2 separate regions of the Homo sapiens genome follow, and region 1 is linked to region 2. Evidence: fine-mapped expression QTL. Tissue or cell type: whole blood. Region 2 holds a variant in brackets; the other region holds the start of a gene. All regions are shown on one strand. Distances are between the middles of the regions.

The links. PIP is the estimated chance that this variant, and not a neighbour inherited with it, causes the effect.
Region 1: it holds the start of GK5, and the variant in region 2 is fine-mapped to the expression of GK5 in whole blood (TOPMed, PIP above 0.99).

The regions. Positions count from the first base shown.
Region 1 is chr3:142,224,204-142,226,832 of GRCh38, reverse strand. It overlaps GK5 (glycerol kinase 5), which reads left to right and starts at 1,248. Exons shown (of 16, transcript NM_001039547.3): 1 at 1,248-1,524. The coding sequence starts at 1,378. RefSeq lists silencers at 1,065-1,304, 1,495-1,714.
Region 2 is chr3:142,344,307-142,347,067 of GRCh38, reverse strand. All of the region lies in intron 33 of XRN1 (5'-3' exoribonuclease 1), which reads left to right. Among named protein-coding and RNA genes, the nearest start is that of XRN1, 100 kb to the left of the region's middle. The variant ATG/G (reference allele first, on the strand shown) is at 1,011.

The DNA.
Region 1 (2,629 bases), 120 kb after region 2:
TGGCCAAGTGTCTGGATGAGCCCATCCCCTTGGGCAGCAACAAAAGGTAAAGGGTCTCTGTGAGGCTTTCAGATTCCAAAAAAAAGCAACCGCTGGAGTGGAGTGTGATGGTCAAAGCAGCCACCTTAAGCTTTCTCCTTTCTTTCCCACTAGAGGGCTGAGAAAAGTCTTCTTCCTTGCGTTGTATTTCATTTGGCAAATATTTACCGCTTTGTATTGTGTGCAAACTTTACCAGGTTTTCTGGGAAGAGAAGTCGTGGGGAGCTCTCAGTTTGTTAATAAATATTAATACTTTTGGCCAAATTTTGAATTTTTTATGTCACTTGTTTTATTTCATTTTTGAAAAACAGCACTTTATTTCATTTAACTCTAGCATATTCAATGGCTGTGCATTTAATAATACTGAAATAAAGTCGCACCCAAAATGTTAGCAAAAAAATGGAAACTATATATGGTAGTGACCTCTACAAATGTTTTAAGCTTGAAAAATTCTGCACGAACGCAGACACAGGTTAGTCTGCCAAAGTTACTCAGATAAAAATTTCTCCAACCCTCAAGTCATAATCATAGTTGAGAAATGAATAAATGTGCCTTATGGCACCTCCAAACTTTTTGAGATTTTTATATAAACTAGCCTATACTTCTCTCCTTACGATTAGCATATGGGGTAGCTATTTTTCTTTAACAGAGATTCTTCAAATGTAGCTAGGGTTAAGAGAAACGCTGGCGCTGCCTCTCAGGAAGCTGGAGAAGCAAAAGAAAAAATTAAGAGTTAAGGGCCGCCGGGCTCGGTGGCTCACGCCTGCAATCGCAGCAATTTGGGAAGCCGAGGCGAGCGGATCACGAGATCAGGAGATCGAGACCAGCCTGATCAACATGGTGAAACCCCTTCTCTACTAAAAATACAAAAATAGCCGGGCGTGGTGGAGCGCGCCTGTAATCCCAGCTACTCGGGAGGCTGAGGCAAGAGAATCGCTTGAACCCGGGAGGCGGAGGTTGCAGTGAGCCGAGATCGCGCCACCGCACTCCAGCCGGGGCGACAGAGTGAGACTCCGTCTCAAAAAGAAAAAAAACAAGAGTTAAGGGCCAAGTCAATCCAACCGCGGCCGGCGACTGGAGGCTGAGCATGGCTGGCGATCTGGGGCTGCAGATCACGGCGCAAACCCGCTCACCTCCACCCCTCCCGCGCGGCCGCCGGCGCGCGCCCGTGGCGTCACGGCGTCGGGGTGGAGCCGGCGGCAGGGGCCAGGCCTCTCTAGGCTCTCCGGCTGAGCCGGGTTGGGGCCCGGGTTGGGCCGCCCGGGGACTCTGGAGCATTGGGATTTGTAGCGCGCCCTCTGGGTAGGCGGCTGTAGCGGAGAGGCGTGCGGGATCGGGATGTCGGGGCTGCTCACGGACCCGGAGCAGAGAGCGCAGGAGCCGCGGTACCCCGGCTTCGTGCTGGGGCTGGATGTGGGCAGTTCTGTGATCCGCTGCCACGTCTATGACCGGGCGGCGCGGGTCTGCGGCTCCAGCGTGCAGAAGGTGACTTGGGGGCGGGCGTGGGGCGCGGGTCTGACTGGGTTTCGCTGAGTCCCGGGGTCCGGCCTCGGGAGGCGAGCGGGCAGGCCCCACCTACCGCCCTGGACGCGGCCACCTGCAGCACCCGCGGGCCCTGGGGCCAGAACGGCGCGCCCAGACCGGCTGAGTCTTCGCGTTCCCTCCCTCGTCTGGGCTGAATCCCGCGCGCCCTTCCTGTCCAGGCTGAGGGTGCCAGGGGCCCGGTGTATGACCTGGGCCGCTCGCTTGCCTCTTGCCACCTGGGGAGCCACCTGTCCGGCCTTACCTGGATGGGACTGAGGTGACTCGCCGGACGGGACTGGGCAGGCTGTGCACATCCAGCCAGAGGGTGGTTTGTGAGTTGCTTGGTTCTTCCTGCACTTCCCTGATAGATCTCCCACCACATCTTTATTTACATTTTAATTTTTCAAAACTTTTTTTCTTTTTTCTTTATTATAGCCTTTGGACTTGTGCCTCAATAACTTTTCATATCTTTGTAGAATTTAAGTTTATTCTCTATTCTTCACTTGTCATCTTTATTAACTACTACTCCACAAAATGCTGGTTCCTTACGTGAGCAACTGATTGCCGTGGATATTAGAGGTATTGGGCAAGTTTTGAAGGCTGTGTGGTCATCAGTTTTCTATTTTCCATCTTTGAGAATTCATAAAATTCTTTATTTCCCCTCGTTTGAGAGACCTGCCAAATCATTGGTTGGTTGTTAGTAAAGCCTTGAATTGTTGATAATATTGGTCAGCAACCAACAAATTGATATCCTTCTGTTCTCATATTAATGAAGTGTTGATTTATACACAATTGTCAATGCACCAAAAATAATATTTATTTGTTATGGTGTTCTTATTGTTGTTCCTTTTTTTCTTTTGAGACAGGGTCTCACTTTGTCACCCAGGCTGGAGTGCAGTGCTGTGATCTCGGCTCACTGCAGCTTTGACCTCCTGGGCTCAAGTGATCCTTCCACCTCAGCCCCCCAAGTAGCTGGGACTACAGGCAAGGGGCCACCATGCCTGGCTAAATTTGTTTGTATTTTTTAATAGAGATGGGATTTTGCCATGTTGCCCAGGCTGGTCTG
Region 2 (2,761 bases):
TAAATTTAGAACATTTTTTGTCACCTGAAAAAGAAACACCATACCTATTAGCAGTCACTCCTCCAGGCCTTGGCAACCCATAGTTTACTTTCTGCCTCTATGGATATGCCTATTCTAGACACTTCATATAAATGGAATCAGAAAATATATGAACTTTTATGACTGGCTTCTTTCACTTGTGTATTTTCAAGATTTATCTATGTTGTAGCATGTTCAGTCGGCCCTCTGTACCTGTGGGTTCCACATCCATGGATTCAACCAACTGAGGATCAAAAATATTCAGAAAAGGCAGGGCACGGTGGCTCATGCCTGTAATCCCAGCACTTTGGGAGGCCAAGGCAGGCAGATCACTTGAGCCCAGGAGTTCAAGACCAGCCTGGGCAACATGGCAAAACCCTATCTCTACCAAAAATACAAAAATTAGCCAGGTGTGGTGGCATGCACCTGTAGTCCCTGCTATTCAGGAGGCTGAGGTAGAAGGATTGCTTGAGCCTGGGGGGCGGAGGTTGCAGTGAGCTAAGATCAGCCACTACACTCCAGCCTGGGTGACAGAGTGAGACCCCTTCTCAAAAAAAAAAAAAAGAGGATGATTGTGTCTGCTCTCAACATGTGCACACTTTTTAATCTTATTATTCCCCTAAACAATACAGTATGACAACTATTTACACAGCATTTACATTGTATCAAGCATTATAAGTAATCTAGGGATTATTTAATATATAAAGAGTATGTTTGTAGATTATATGCAAATACTACACTATTTTCTGTAAGGGACTTGAACATATGTGGATTTTGATAGCCACAGGAGGGTCTTGGAAGCAATCTTCCACAGATATGGAGGGACAACTGTATCAGTACTTCATCCTTTCTTATGGCTGAATAATATTCCATTGTATGAATGCTACATTTTATCGGTTCATCCATTTGTAGACATGGAGGTTGTTTCCACATTGGGGCTATAGTGAATAATGCTGCTATGAATATCTGTGGAAAAGTTTTTGTGTGAACAT[ATG/G]TTTTCAGTTCTCTTGGGTATATGCATATGAGTGAAATTACTGAGTCATATAGTGGTAACTCTTAAGTTCAGCTTTTTGTATAACTGCCGAACTGTTTGGATATTACCATTTTACCTTTGCACCAGGGATGTGTGAAGGTCCAATTTCTCCACATCCTTCACAACATTTGTTATTGTCCCTCTCTTTGACAATAGTCGTCCTACTAGGTGTGAGGTGGAATGTTCTTGTGGTTTTCATTTGTAATTTATTAATGACTAATAATGTTGAGCATCTTTTCATGTATATCATCTTTGGAGAAATGTCAGTTCAAATCCTTGGTTCATTTTTTAATTGGATTTTTTAATCTTTTTTCTTGGTTTGTAAGAGTTCTTTATACATGCTAGATATTACATGCTTCTTGGATATGTGATTTGCAAATATTTTCTCCCATTCTGTGGGTTTTCTTTTAACTTTCTTTATACTCTATTGAAACACGAAAGTTTTAAATTTTGATGAAGTCCAATTTGTGTATTTTTTCTGCTTTGTCTTTGGTTGCTTGTACCTTAGGTGTACATCTAAGAAACCATTCCCTAATCCAAAGTCACAAAGAGTTACAGTGTGTTTTCTTCTAAGAATTGTATAGTTTTAGCTTTTAGATTTAGGTCTCTTTCCATTTTGAGTAAAAGTTTATACATGGTATGATGTAGGAGTTCATATTCATTCTTCTGCATGTGGATATCCATTTATCCAAACATTGTTTGTTAAAAAGACTACTCTTTCCCCATTGAATTTTCTTGACACCCCATTGAATAGTCTTGGCACCCTTGTCAAAAATTATTTGGCTATAGAGCCAGGCATGCATCTGTAGTACCAGCTGCCCAGGAGTCTGAGGCAGGAGGATTGCTTGAACCCAGGAGTTTGAGTCCAGCCCGGGAAACATATTAAGACACCATCTCATTTTTAAGAAGTAATTGACTGTAGATGTATGGGTTCATTTCTGGACTCTCAATTCCATTCCACTAATGTATATGCCCGTCCTTATGTGAAATACACAGTCTTGATTACTGTAGCTTTGTTGTAAGTTTTGAAATCAGGAAGTTTGAGCCCTCTTTGTTTTTCTTTTTCAGGATTGTTTTCTCTATTCTGGGCCTCTTGCATTTCCATATGAATTTTATGATCATCTTGCCTATTTCTGCAAAAATGGCAGCTGGAATTTTTATAGGGATTGCATTGAATCTGTAGGTTACTTTGGGTAGTATTGTCATCTTAACAGTATTAAGTTTTCCTGTCCATGAACACAAGATGTCTTTCCATTTATTTCGGTCTTTAATTTCTTTCCATGATGTCTTGTAGTTTTCAGTTATGCAAGTCTTACACTTTTTTGTTAAATTTATTCCTAAATATTTTACTCTTTTTCATGCTTTTTTCAATGGAACTGGGTTTTTAATTTTATTTTTTGATTGTTCATTTCTGTTATAGATATAAAACTGATTTTTGTATATTGCCTTAACTGTTTATTAGCCCTAATTTTTTGTGGCTTCTGCAAATAGAGATAGTTTTACTTTTTCCTATATAATCTCAATGCCTTTTATTTCTTTTGTTGCCTAATTGCTGTGTTTACAACAGCTAGTACAGTGCTGAATAGAAGTGGTGAGAACATGCATCCTTGCCTTTTATTTGTTTTTTATCTTTTATTTTTAATTTTTGTGGATACATAGTAGGTATATATATTTATGGGTTACATGAGATATTTTGTTACAGGCATGCAA